Homo sapiens: one gene and its partner. The protein of the gene in region 1 interacts with the protein of each later gene in a biochemical or structural test. Each region holds a gene or a part of one and is shown on either strand. Other genes may lie near its edges. The genes, in order: PLEKHG2 and GNG2.

Region 1 (7,272 bases):
GCTGGGCATTTCAGCTGCAATGGAACTTTCGAGCCCTTCCAGGACGTGGAGTGGGGAAGGCCCCCGTTCATCCATCTCCAGCCCTTCCTCTTCCTCCTCCTCCTCTTCTGAAGAGTCCCGGCTGGGCAGGGCTTGGAATGTGAGGGTTTCGCTGTCGCCAGGCACCTGGGAGTCTCCGGGGAACTTGGGAATGTCATGGGTGGACGGCTATAGTGGGCACAGGAGAACAAGCCAAACATATCAGCATGGTAGCTGGGTGTGGTGGCTCACGCCTGTAATCCCAGCACTTTGGGAGGCTGAAGTGGGCGGGTCACTTGAGGTTACGAGTTCGAGACCAGCCTGGCCAACATAGTGAAACCCTGTCTCTACTAAAAATACAAAAAAAAAAAAAAAATTAGCCGGGTGTGTTGGCGGGTGCCTGTAGTCCCAGCTACTCAGGAGGCTGAGGCAGGAGAATCGCTTGAACCTGGGAGGCAGAGCTTGCAGTGAGCCGAGATGGCGCCACTGCACTCCAGCCTCGGCAACAGAGCAAGACTCCATCTCAAATAAAAAAAAAATAAAGGTATCAGCATGGGCTGGCCTATCTGGTCCCTGGTCTGTGTGCCCACACCCAGAGGCCCAAGGACACCATGATGGGACAGCCAGCTCACCCCTGGATCTCGAAGGCCTCGCTGATTCAGCAGTTCCAGGATTTCTTCAGTGATTGAGGTCCCAGAGGGGTCCAGTGTTGGGGGTCCAGCATCCTCCAGGTCCTCAGGGGGTGCAGAGCCTGAAACTGGTGGCTGAGATTCTGGAGGGTAGAGTTCCCCTTCGCTGCCAGCGTGCTGTGAGGAGGGAAAGCAATGGAAGGCAAGAGCCAAGACTCCTCCCTCACATAGAGGACCCCAAGTCCCAATCCCCTTCTTTTGCGTTTGTTTGTTTTGAGATGGAGTCTCGCTCTGTCGCCCAGCCTGCAGTGCAATGGCGCCATCTCTGCTCACTGCAATCTCCGCCTCCCGGGTTCAAGCGATTCTGCTGCCTCAGCCTCCTGAGTAGCTGGGATTACAGGCGCCTGCCACAATGTCCAGCTAATTTTTGTATTTTTAGTAGAGTCGGGGTTTCTCCTTGTTGGCCAGCCTGGTCTCAAATTCCTGATCTCAGATGATCCACCTACCTCGGCCTCCCAAAGTGCTGGGATTACAGGTGAGCCACCGTACCTGGCTCAATTTTTAAATTTTTTTATTTTTCTCTTAAAATTTTTATTTATTTATTTGAGACAGGGTCTCACTGTGACCCATGCTGGAGTGCAGTGGTGTGTCCCAGCTCATTTTGCAACCTCTGCCTCCCAGGCTCAAGCAATCCTCCCACCTCAGTCTCCTGAGTAGCTGGGACTATGGGCATGCACTAGTGTGCCTGGCTAATTTTTTTGTACTTTTTGTAGAGATGGGGTTTTGCCATGTTGCCCAGACTGGTCTCAAACTCCTGGGCTCGAGCAATCCTCCTGCCTTGACCTCCCAAAATACTGAGATTACAGGCATGAGTTACTCTGTCTGGCCCCAATCCCCTTCTCATTCAGACCCAGGATTTTGGAACTCAAGCTCCCTTCTCCATCAGACCCAGAAGTCAAGGTGCCCAGACCCTATCTCGAGATATCTCTTACCTTGAATCCAGGCTTAGCTAAGGATGGAGAGATGAGAGAGAGAGAAGCATTAGTGAGATGTAAGGGAAAAAGAGTGATTCCCCCATAACTGATGAGCTGAAGCAACCACCCCTCCCCAACCCGCCCCAGACATCCCACCGGGCGACAGACAGGGATGGACCAGGCTGAACCGGGGCAGTCACTGACCGTTCTGTGGGAACATGACATAAGGGTCCTTCACCGGCTCTGCGGGGAGGACACAGTGATGTCAGGAGCCCAGCTCCCACCCCGATGCCTGGATCACCCTTAGGGGTGAGTGCTCACCAGACTGCCTGCGGCCTCGGCGAATCACAGAGGGCCCAGGAGATGGAGCTGTGGGAGGGAGGGCCAGAGCCCTGTGTGAGCCCAGCTCCCGGGTCCTAGGGAAGTGGGGCTGAGGGCTGGGACTCAGGGATCCACCGCCTTTACCTGTGTTCCTTCGCCCAGGGGTAAAACTTCTAGCATCTCGAGGTCGAGGAGACCCAAGTGGGGGTGTCAGGGGCTCTAGGACAGGCTTACTTTTGGGGGCACCTGTGGGGAGAGTTTTGGGGCTAAAAGCCAACTTTTTCTTGGAAGTAATTCGTCTACTTCCACACCCTCCCAGCCCAAGGCCCCAACTCACAATGCAGGCTGTTTTCAAGGAGAACTTGCTTTGCCTGAAAGACAGGAGGATGAGGGCTGAGGTGGGTCGATCTTGGAGTACCACAGAGAGGATACTTTAAGCACCGTAGTCATGCCCATTAATGGGTGCTGTTTTTGTTTTTAGATCTTGCTCTATACGCCAGGTTGGAGTACAGTGGTGCAATCATAGCTCACTCCAGCCTCTACTTCTGGGATCAAGCGATCTTCCCACCTCACCCTCCTGAGTAGCTGGGATTTCATATGTGCACCATCACATCCAGCTAATTTTTTTTTTTTTTTGAGACGGAGATTTTGCTCTTGTTGCCGAGGTTGGAGTGCAAAGGCGCGATTTCGGCTCACTGCACCCTCTGCCTCCTGGGTTCAAGCGATTCTCCTGCCTCAGCCTCTTGAGTTGCTGGGATTACAGGTGCCCGCTACCACACCCGGTAATTTTTGTGTTTTTAGTAGAGACGGGGTTTCACCATGTTGACCAGGCTGGTCTTGAACTCCTAACCTCAGGTGATCCACCCGCCTTGGCCTCCCGAAGTGCTGGGATTACAGGCGTGAACCACCACGTCCAGCCCAGCTATTTTATTTTTATTTTTTTGAGACGGAGTTTCGCTCTTCTTGCCCAGGCTGGAGTGCAATGGCATGATCTCGGCTCACCGCAAGTTCCGCCTCCCAGGTACAAGTGATTCTCCTGCCTCAGCCTCCCTAGTAGCTGGGATTACAGGCATGCGCCACCATGCCCAGCTAATTTTTCTTTTTCTTTTTTTTTTTTGAGACAGAGGCTCACTCTGTTGCCCAGTCTGGAGAGCGCAGTGACGCAACCTAGGCTCACTGCAAGCTCTTGCCTCCTGGGTTCACGCCATTCTCCTGCCTCAGCCTCCCGAGTAGCTGGGACTACGGGCACCTGCCACCACGCCTGGCTAATTTTTTGTATTTTTGGTAGAGATGGGGTTTCACCATGTTAGCCAGGATGGTCTCGATCTCCGGACCTCGTGATCCGCCCGCCTCGGCCTCCCAAAGTGCTGGGATTACAGGCATGAGCCACCGCGCCCGGCCTAATTTTGTATTTTTTAGTAGAGATGGGGTTTCTCCATGTCGGTCAGGCTGCTCTTGAACTCCTGACCTCAGGTGATCCGCCCGCCTTGGTCTCCCAAAGTGTTGGGATTACAGGTGTGAGCCACCGTGCCTGGCCAGCCCCAGCTAATTAAAAAATGTTTTTTAGAGACAGGGTCTCACTATGTTGCCCAAGCTGGTATCGAACTCCCGGGCTTAAATGATCCTCCCACATCACCCCCTCGAAGTGCTGGGATTATAGGCATGAGCCACCACAGCCAGCTGATGGGTGCTTCTATTGGTCAAGCCCATGACGTGGCTGGTGACCATTACTCATCACCACAACCCTAGGATGAAGGCGCTTTCATTCCTCTAGGTGAGGAAGTTAAGGCTCAGAGAGGTTAAGTTACTTGCCCAAGGTCACAAAGCAGGGACATGGTAGAGCTAAGATTCAAACCCAAGTAGCGGAATTCTGCACTTTTAGCAATCACATTATAACAGACTGCTCTGGCATTGGGCAGGGGCGTCTCTTAGTACTATTGGGGGAGGGTGTCTCCAGCACTCAGAGGGCCCCCGGCTGCGGCAGGAGCTGTACCTTGGCAGGGATGGAGGCAGGGTGGTTCTCAAAGAAGAGGCGCTGGAGACAGTGAATCCACAGCCTCTTCTCTTCTTGGTTCTTGGCCTAGGAGTGGGTTGGAGTAGAGTCAGGGGGCCAGGTGTGAGGTCTCGAGGCTGGGGGATCCCTGCCAGCCTGATCCCACTACATGCTCACCTGGAGCAGGTGTCTGTGCTTGGGAATGGTCAGATCAGACACCTTGAACCCTAGAGGGTCTCGGGGACTCTCGCTCACGCTCAGGTTGCAGCACTGGAAGGAAAGAGAGGGGTAGCAAGCTCAGAGTCCTTGGGCTCAGTGATGCCCCTTGTACGGAGACACCCTTGGAGGTGTATCTGGGTCCTCCTCCCTAGGAAGATGCATCCCATAAGGCTGTATGGTGGGTTTCCTCTCCCTTTTTTTTTTTTGAGACAGAGTCTTGCTCTGTCACCCAGGCTGGAGTGCAGTGGCATGATCTTGGCTTATTGCAACCTCCGCCTCCTGGGTTCAAGTAATTCTCCTGCCTCAGCCTCCCCAGTAGCTGGGATTACAGGCACTTGCCACCACGTCCAGCTAATTTTTGTATTTTTAGTAGAGACGGGGTTTCACCACGTTGGCTAGGCTGGTCTCGAACTCCTGACCTCAAGTGATCCGCCCGCCTTGACCTCCCAAAGTGCTCGGATTACAGGAATGAGCCACCACGCCCAGCCTTCTCCTTTTTTTTCTTAAGTGGGGCAGCTCTCATTCTATACACTAGAAAGAAAGCTTCCCTTGGCTTCCATTCTCTAACTCAAGAAAATGTGGCAGGGTCCCCTGGCCCACACTGCCGGGCACACAGATACAGGTATATGGGATATACTTTGTAGGTAGTATTCTAGCCCCACCCCATCCCCAAACTCACGAAGATGTGGCCTTTGTAGGTGTACTCCAGCCCCCTGCGCTTGGCCACCAGCAGCATCCGAGAGAACAGGAAGAGCAGCCGCTCACCCCCTCGTAGCCGGGGGCCACCCCCTCCGCCTCCTCGGAACGCGCCCTCCAACACCAGTTCCCCAAAAGCACTGAGCTCTGGTCCGGTCCAGCCACCCAGCCGCCGCTGCACTTCCTGCCGGGACCCCGCCAGGTGCGCCGGGGCGCAGAGACAAGCATGGGTAGGTGGCACACACATACACACCAAAACAGGGGGTTAGCAACAGGGCCATGCTGTCCCAGCCAACCCTCCAAGGCTACCTCTGAGGCACTGATTTCCCCCCACCCGCCCCAAGGCCCCCTCGCTCACTCCCTCATCCAGCAAGCCCCAGCCCACCCTGGGGCCACCTGGAGGCGCGCTGCATGCTCCTGCTTGCGCTTCATGTCGTTGATGTACCAGGCAACCGCTGTCATGGACACAATAGCTTCCTCCACCATCTCGCGACCCCCAGTGCCTGGGCCCTCCGCCCAGTGCTTCCCTAGTTCCTGTCAGGCAGCCACCAGGCACGCAGGGATGGGGAGAGAAACAGAGAAGGAGAAAGAGAATGAGAATAACAGGAGATGGAGAAATATAAAGATAGGGGCAGAGGCCAGGCGCAGTGGCTCATGTCTGTAATCCCAGCACTTTGGGAGGCTGAGGTGGGCAAATCACCTGAGGCCAGGAGTTCGAGACTAGCCCGGCCAACGTAGTGAAACCCCGTCCCTATTAAAAATACAAAAATTAGCTGGGCATGGTGGTGTGCGCCTGTAATCCTAGCTACTCAGGAGGCTGAGCAAGGAGAATCACTTGAACCCAGGAGGTGGAGGTTGCAGTGAGCCAAGATCGCACCACTGTACTCCAGCCTCATCGACAAGAGTGAAACTCCACCTCAAAGGGAAAAAAAAAAGCTAGGGCTGTGCGCGGTGGCTCACGCCTGTAATCCCAGCACTTTGGGAGGCCTTGCCCAACTCGTGGGGGGTCCATCCTCCAGATGAACCAACAGGTGGTCAAGGGACAGGACCTCCCCCTCCCCAGCCTGGCTCCAGGGGCCCCAGCTGACCTGCAGCAGCAGATGGTACTTGAGAATGCGCTGGACAGGTTTCAGCAGGAAGCTCTGCAGGGGCAGCGAGTGGCGAAGCTGGGCCTGGCGCTCCTGCAGCCACAGGGCTGCTGGCGGAGACAACGACAGCTCCCGGAGCAGGGCCAGGGAGCTGGGGGCACAGCACAGGTCAGTGGGGATTGTCAGTTCCAGTGGGCGGGGTCAAGAGGGGTTAGGGAGGGGCCAGGGTTTGGGAAGGGTCAGGGTCTGACAGGGGGCGGGGCAGTGAGGGAGAGGTCAGTTACTGTCACAGCCTGGCAGGGGTCGGTGCTGGATGGGTCGGGGGTAGAGGGAGGGTGACGGGTGACTGGCACATCAGCTTGTGGGCACAGCCTGAGGCCCAGCAGGGGCTCCTGCCCCTCACCTCGGGTAGTTCATGCAGTACAATGTGTAGATGTCAAAATCCTCGCTCTGCGGGTGACATGGGAGTCAGGGAGACCCCAGGTCCTGGCTTCCCACGACCCCCCTTCCAGCCTAGCCCAAGCCTGCTCTCCCCCCTCTACAAAGGCCCCATCCAGGACCGAGAGCCCCCCACCCCTCCACTCACCCTCTGCACGAAGCACTCGGCAATACCCCCGGCGCTGCTGCTGTTCTCCAAGTCCTCCAGGAGCTCGCTACAGGGGAGAGGGGAGGGTGAGGAACCGCCTGCCTTCACGACCCCTCCATGGGAGGCCTCCAGGAGGCTGAGGCCCCAATGGTCTGCTGGGGCTGGGGGCTTGCTGACTGCCAGCATCTCCTAAGGGGATGTCATGTCCGGAGGAAGGGTCCTCTGAGGGCTACACGGGGCATGGTAACCTGCTTAGACTTTGTCCCTGGACAGCTTCTCATTCCTCAGCTTGAACTTGTGTCAGTGCTGGCATGAGCCTAGGGGTGTTATATCATGACCCAAAGAGCTAGGATGATCTTAAGTTCCTGCTGTAATCCCGAGACCTCGTCAAGGTACTTGGAAATGTCATGATCCTTGGACCCCAGAGTCCTCCTTACCACAGTGACCAACCATCCTGGTTTGTCCGGGACTGAGCAGTTTCCTAGGACGAGGGCTTTCAGTGCTAAAACTGGAAAAGTCCCAGGCAAATCAGGCTTAGGGGGTCACTCGCATGCTCACGCTGTCTCGGCCTTCAGGCCCCATATGATTCTTGGATTCATCGTGAGCCCAGACCTGACACAGCCCCAAGGACTCGTCCTGATGCCGGGACCCTGTCCCAGTGTTTGGGCTTCATCCAGGTCCTCTGACTCCCATCCGCTATGCCCCTCCCTCACTCGGGGTCCTCCCATCCGCTATGCCCCTCCCTCAC
Region 2 (7,272 bases), on another chromosome or scaffold:
AGGAAGAGGCAGACACAGAGAGAGGAGCAGAGACAGGTGACGGAGCACTCGCAGTTCTCAATGGCCTTCCAGTTCTCACTTCCACTGCCTATCTAGCCACATTTCTGCTCTTGGATTGAGACATCCTGTATCTTTTATAATCAGTACCTCTTTCTGCTTCAGCTAGCTTGGTTGAGATTCCTATTATTAGAAACTCAAAGAGTCCTAATACAATGATGAATAAACAGATTTACTGAAGCCCTGCTGTCCTTTACTTTTGTGCATGTTCCCTCCTCTTGTGCTCTAAGGACAAGGTTTCTTTCATTTTGTCTTTGGTCAGTGTTAGTGTGAGTCTATTGCTGTTTCATTCATCCAGGTGTCACAGTCCACAGCCCCTCTCTCCCCCTTCCCCTAACTCTCTTCCCAATTTCCTTTTATTTCTCTTTACCCTCTGTCCTTGAATGAAATCCTAACAAAGAAATACAAAGAGGCTGAGAGTATAATTTATATATGCCCGAGGCTTATGAACAGATAATTGGTTCACTTAGCCCAAATCTCCCAGGGTCTGTGATGTAAAGGGATAGAAAACAAGAAGGCTTAAAAAACAAACATGCTATTCATGTAACTATGTTATTCATAGAGTAGGGCTACTCTATGCAGCATAATTTATTCTGGGGGTCACATGAGGGATAAGGCCACCGCCTGCTTAAGGGACCCTCAACAACTTCAATTCCAGCTGTGTCCCCAAATCCTCCTCTTAAGAGTCCTATTCTTTGCCACCTCAGTTGCAGTAGGTTCTGCCAGACGTATATAAAGCCATTTCTATCCTTTATAGCTTGAAGAGGTCACTACTCTCACTGGAAAATCACAAGCCTGGGATCTTCAGAGAGAAGCCCCTTCCTGCTGAAGGATCATGTATGGAAAGTAGGTGGGGAAGCCTGAATGCTCAAAAGCCTTGAAAAGACTTCTAAAGGCAGATAACCAAGCCCTAAACCAGCTAGCTGACAACCGTGTCAACACAGTCAACACTTTATCCAACTGCTCAACTAAAAATAATCTGTCACTTCACCACAGCAAGCCTGCCTGGCTCTGAGGTACAGAACAAATGCTGAAATACAGGATGCTGCTGTATTTCTAACAATGTAAGGTCCAATGACATCAAGTGGGATTCAGAGATTTGAATGTGAAGATCACCTAGGAAGGCAACTACTCACACCCAGTTTATCAGGTTCATGCTTTGCTTCTTTTTTAGTATTGATTTATTTGTGTCTCTTCAAAGGGCAATCAGAGTGTGGTATTGGCTTCTTTCTGATCACATTTGGTAACTATGCTTCTTGGATATCTTGTTTGCGTCAATAATAGGCCTTGTTCAATTTTTTTGTAGTCTTCAACTAGGTCAGGGATTTTTGAGAGCAAGAATCATGTTTTTGTCTATCTCCATCTCTTTAGAACCTAACAAGCCCTTGCAATTTAGAAAGCTCTCAGTAAAGTATTTATTATATAAGTAAATGAATGAACAACTGAACAAACAGCAAAAATCCAACCTTATGATGCGGGTCTAGGAAAACTTTTTAAAGGACCTAATAATTTGATCTGAATCTTTAATGAGTCAATGCAGTCAAGTGTTAAGTAAAGTAAGGTAAGTAAAGCAGCAAGGTAGAGGGGCAAAGGAGACTGGATGTTCTAGGCATTTGAAATTCCCATCAAAAGAATTAAAAGTTGTTCTATATGGCATGCAGAAAAGAGAGCAGGAATGAAGCTGAAGAGATGACAGGGGTCACAGGAACTTTGTATACACTGCTAAAGGGCCTGAATTTTATTTTACTGGTGATGGGGAATCATGAGCTGATTTTCAATAAAGAGGAATGTAATTAGATTTTCTTTTAGAACATTATATTTGGAAGGAATATGGAAGGTAATTGATGGCGGGATGGAGATGTATTGAGATGGAATTGCAGACAGCAAATAGGAGCCCCTTGCAGTCAGTAATTCAGGTGAGGGATGATAAAAGTCTAAACTATTTCTGAAAAGCTCTATTTCTATTATCTTTCTTCTGCTGTCAGTTTTCATCACCCATGAGCACATCATATCCTCCTTCAGGAACAGTAACTGGGGATGCTGAATATTAACAGAAAACATCAACCACAGTAAAGCTTCACAGACTTTTATCATAGTTGGACCACCTCAAAAGTCAAAGTGGTATTTTCCAGAAGGCCCATGGGCAGAACCTCCTCTCCCTCAAAAAGAACTGAATGACCCTTTCTGATTTGACAATCCATGGGCCACCTTACTTCTCTCAGCAGGTATTGTGCCCACCTGTTGCTTTGTGCTTTTTCAGCAAGAGAGTGAAAAAGAAGAAGCAAGAAAAGAGGAGAAGAGGAAGATGGCAAAGGAGCACGGTAAGGTCGCTTTAGTGATCTCAGTCATGAAGAAAGAAGAAGAATTAAGGCTGTTGAAAGAAGAGCAGGAGCTGATTAAATCCTGTGGTCCATTACTAGGCATCAAATTTTACAAAGGAGATTTAGGATAATGGGAAAATGTCCATGGGTATTTGCTCATCTTACTTGTAGAGAAAGAAGAGCTCTCTCTTCACTCTCTAGCACATACCTGATGAGACTTAGCAGAAGTAAACTCCTTCCCATAGGACAGTGGTTCTCAACCTTGGCTATACATCGGAATGAACTGAAAAATTCTTTTTAAAAAATACTGATGCCTGAATCATACCCCAGGAGATTCTAATTTAATTGGTTTGGGTGTGGTTCGGTAATTGGTCCTTTTATAGAGCTCTCTGGGTGTTGGGAACGCACAGATGAGCTGAGAACCATCGCTGTAGACCAGGGGTCAGTGAACTTCCTGTGAAACACCAGAGAATAAATATTTTAGCTTTGTGGGCCATATGGTCTCTGTTACAACCACCCTACTCTGCTGTTTTAGAGTGAAAGCAGCCATAGACAATATGTAAATGAGTGTGTTCTAATAAAACTTTCTTTATAAACATAGGCAGTGGGCTGGCTTTGGCCCATGAGCCAAATTTTATTGACCCTGTCAGACTCCAAAGGACAGCTGGATTGCCCAGGTGCTGAATTAGGTATGGAGAAAATAGGAAAAATATTCTAGTTTTAAAAGGGCATTTGGAAGAAGGTTGTAGTTTTAGCTTAGTACAATGAGATATGTGTCTGAGCTGCATTTCATAGAATTCTTGGGTAAGGCATTTTACTTCTGGGGCAGTAAAGTTTTGATGGTTAACAGAAATTTACTTTGCCACCGTGCCATAGCTATCTATTAATAACGACAGCATATTGGCCAAGGTTTTCATCTGAAAACTACCAACGAAGGGTTTGAATTTAAAGTCTTGGTTCCAGATGAATTAGCCCCAGCTTACAGCAAAGCTGTCAGGTTAGGTCTGGGGAGGGAGAGGAAAAAAAGAAACACATAGACTATGAACTTTCATTAAACCTCTTTGTTGTTTGACTTCTTAGGGAGGCAAGGTGTGACTTTTGTGTTTGCAGGAAAAAAATTCAATAAAGTATAAAGAAGAAAAAACTTATAACGTGCAAGGATAACTAGAAGTGTTAGACCCAAAATACGGACATTTAGCCTTAGAACCTGAACCAGGACAGAAAAAATTAAAAACCAAATAAGAAAAACGTTTCCATGAGGACAGGGAGGGGAACTAGTGCGCTGATATATTTTATGTGTTCTCTAATTTCTCTCACTGGAATTTAACCATGAGCCTGTTTTGCTTTTTTTTTTGTGTTGTGTTGTTAGGTTTTAATTCTACATGGGAAAGAGGATCTAATTCATTCTATTATTTTATGCTGGAGAAGGGAAAGACACGTTAGAAATGAACTTCTGCCTAATCTTTAAGATGCTCTCCTGTCATTACTGGTTTTATCCCTCTCTAGGAAAGAGTGGTCACATGACATGCGCCTTAGACTCACGCTAGATGAAGTGTGGGGTTAGACCATCCTCACCTTTATCCTGTCGATATTGGCTTCCATCTTAAGCTGCTCTACCAGCTTCCTGGCTTGTGCTATGCTGGCGGTGTTGTTGCTGGCCATCGGAGTGCTGGATAGATCTTTCAGAAACACTAGAAAAGAAAACAAAAAGAAGATTGTACCAGAGAATTCATGAGCCAGCAAATGTGCAAGTTCATCGTAACTAGGGGATCTCAAAGCAGTGGCTGTAGCCAGGCCTGGCTTCTCCAGCCCTCTCCATCCTTGGTCGGTATTACCTCTGACTGGCAGGCAGAGCAGAGGATGAGGTTTGATTTTCCAATTCTCCCTACTTCCCCATCCCTTCTTTAGAGAGAAAAAAAACACACACACAAAGAATATTACCAAATGTTCTCCCAGTGGGCTCAAACCCCATCCTTCTGGTTAACTGTGACCACCTCAGCGTATTATACTACAGAGACACTATAGTGGGAGGCTTGGCTTTTCAGTGTCACTTAATCCAGCATTGCTGTAAATAGCCATTCCTCCCCACTCTATTTGAAATTAAAGTTTGAGTCACAACGATCTACTTTACTCATAATTCCTCAGGGACACATCTATCATGCCAAATGGGAGGGATTGCCATGCCTAATCTCTAAATATGACAATTAGTTCACCAGTGTTATTCTAAATGAAGTACAACAAACTTATTAACTGATTTCTTTTATAAATCTGGAACATAAACATTTTGAGAGTAGAGTTCTTGGCTGGGCATGGTGGCCCACATCTGTAATCCCAGCACTCTGAAAGGTCAAGGTGGGAGGATCCCTTGAGGCCAGGGTTTGAGAGTAGAGTTCTGTTCCTAGGCAGATTGCGAGATGGTTTCTTTGTCTCTGCCATACCTCTTTCTCCATGTGTGCTCCCCTCCCCCTTCAAATCCTATCCCACATTCATTTCTCTTCTTATCCTTTCTTGACATACCATCTCACTTTATTATTATTGTTCATCTTGGAAAATACCTTATTTTATTCCCGTTGCTGATGCCCACTTCCCCCACATTCTGAACAAATCTTACTTTGTGTCAAGGTGTCATATGCAATTTTAGGACTACCTGTGTAAATATGCTCCTTGAGATCACTGATATCCTATTGGATAAAGCAAAACCTAAGTGCTTTGATTTGACTAGAGTGCATGACCCATGAAACAGAAACATTAAACACTGCCTCGTCAACACTAATGGAATCTTGTTCTGAAGATATTATATAAAAAATAATGACTTCTGCTAGCTTTGGACAATCTTTTTACCAAAGGATGAAGTAAGATCAGGTTACTTATCTTAAAAAGAAAAAGAACACACAGAAAACCTGGAAAATGAAGAATAACCCGTAACAAATTCTGTACATAGATTTTTTTTAACCTACCAACTAAAATCAACAAATAATTATTGTCTTAATGACCAAAAAGCAAAAGTCTATAAATTATCTCTTTTGGTAGTTATTTCTTGATATCCAGTTCTTCAAGACAAAAGAAGAAATTAGGTATAACTCTCTGTAACATACAAATCCCTTCATGGAGAATATTATGTTGAAGAATACTACAAAATAAGCCACCCAACATCATTTACAGAATAAATTGGAGCATAATTAATTGTTCCCTCAATTTCTTTTCTTTTTTTTTTTTTTTTGAGACGGAGTCTGCCTCTGTCGCCCAAGCTGGAGTGCAGTGGCGCGATCTCGGCTCACTGCAAGCTCCACCACCCAGGTTCATGCCATTCTCCTGCCTCAGCCTCCTGAGAAGCTGGGACTACAGGTGCCCGCCACCACACCTGGCTAATTTTTTGTATTTTTAATAGAGACGGGGTTTCACCATGTTAGCCAGGATGGTCTTGATCTCCTGACCTCGTGATCCGCCCACCTCGGCCTCCCAAAGTGCTGCGATTACAGGCATGAGCCACCACGCCCGGCCATCCCTCAATTTATTTTCAAAGAGTTTGGAGACAATAAAATGAGAGGGAAGATTGAAGGAATTTTTGAAGTCACAGAGATCTCTGAACTCTACTTTTACACATTTGGAGATCAAAGGAAGGAGAATTGCATGGAAAAACAAAATAATAAAAGGAGACTTTAACAAGTATTATTTCATTAGCATGGTTAGAGACCCAATCATCGCAGCCTCACAGGGAAATTACATGCTCCACAATTAAACAAACATCTAACAGCCTAGGAAGACTTCATAGGGCCAAGATAGAGCATTGACTTATTCAGAAGGGTAGCCTAACTCTTCTATTCATCCAATATTGGATGCAGCCACAATCTACAAGCCCCTGGATGCTGTTCTGTGAAGCGAATGTTTCTGCCAAACTGGAATTCATTCATCTGGCTGGAATGCAGACTATCACAGAATTACCAAATTCTTATTGGGACATTTGAGATTCTGGCCAGTGACTCTTCTGCCCTGAATCTACACCAGATTACAGGGTGACCTGTGGCAGAGATCACAACTTGCCTTCTAATCCCTCTTCCTTTCTTCTTCATTAGTAACGACACTTTTTTTCTTAGTGGAGACCACAAGAACCCTGAATTTTAGCTAGGTGTATTTAGCCGAAAGATACATTCCAAGCCTCTCTTGCAGCTAGGTATAGTTACATGACTAAGTTTTGGCCAATGAGATATAAGCAGAAATGTTCTTGAAGGGAAGAGGTATACGCCTTGTCTCTCCTTCCTCCTGCTACTGGCCTGGGAGGCATCTGCATTGATCACAGAAGTCCCTCTTGAACCTCTAGCATGACTGCTACACTAGGGTGAACAGGAAGGATCTGGGTCCTTACTGATTTTGTGGAGCCACCATGCCAACTGTGAGATGGTTACCTTTGATGTGACAGAGAAATAAGTGCCTATCTTATTGATGCCACCATTATTGAGGGGTTCTCTGTCATTAGCCAACAGACCTGCTATTAACTGAGTAAATGACCCATTATTGTCATTCAAGCATCAAGGAAAGTCTGTGTCTCAATGCCTTTTCATGCTCCCTGGGAAAAGCTGTGAGTGGCTTGAGGAGGCTGAGATAGAGAATATATTTGTTCTATTGCTGCTGTAATATATTACTACAAGTTTAGGGGCTTAAACAATAGAAATTTATTATCTTATAATTCTGGAGAGCATTAGTCTCAAATGGGTCTCACTGGGCTAAAGTCAAGGTACAAGCAGGGCTGTGTTCCTTTTTGAGGCTCTGAGAGTTCACTTTCTTTCATTTTCTAGCTTCTGGAGGCTGTCAGCTTTTCTTGGCTCTTGGCCCTTTCCTCCATCTTTAAAGCTGGCAAAGGTGAGTGGAGCCCTTCTCATGTCACATCACTCTGACC

The links.
Region 2: the proteins of PLEKHG2 (region 1) and GNG2 form a complex in vitro, tested with the Homo sapiens proteins (one study listed by BioGRID).

What each region holds. Positions count from the first base shown.
Region 1 is NC_000019.10:39,415,667-39,422,938, reverse strand, and holds part of PLEKHG2 (pleckstrin homology domain-containing family G member 2), read right to left. Parts: intron 6,592-7,272; coding exon 6,525-6,591; intron 6,389-6,524; coding exon 6,342-6,388; intron 6,090-6,341; coding exon 5,939-6,089; intron 5,385-5,938; coding exon 5,247-5,384; intron 5,035-5,246; coding exon 4,834-5,034; intron 4,206-4,833; coding exon 4,113-4,205; intron 4,023-4,112; coding exon 3,936-4,022; intron 2,314-3,935; coding exon 2,280-2,313; intron 2,189-2,279; coding exon 2,087-2,188; intron 1,991-2,086; coding exon 1,943-1,990; intron 1,865-1,942; coding exon 1,826-1,864; intron 1,657-1,825; coding exon 1,640-1,656; intron 825-1,639; coding exon 651-824; intron 208-650; coding exon 1-207. UniProt on the Homo sapiens protein: May be a transforming oncogene with exchange activity for CDC42. May be a guanine-nucleotide exchange factor (GEF) for RAC1 and CDC42. Activated by the binding to subunits beta and gamma of the heterotrimeric guanine nucleotide-binding protein (G protein).
Region 2 is NC_000014.9:51,947,447-51,954,718, reverse strand, and holds part of GNG2 (guanine nucleotide-binding protein G(I)/G(S)/G(O) subunit gamma-2 precursor), read right to left. Parts: intron 4,070-7,272; coding exon of another isoform or gene 4,041-4,069; coding exon 3,954-4,040; intron 1-3,953. UniProt on the Homo sapiens protein: Guanine nucleotide-binding proteins (G proteins) are involved as a modulator or transducer in various transmembrane signaling systems.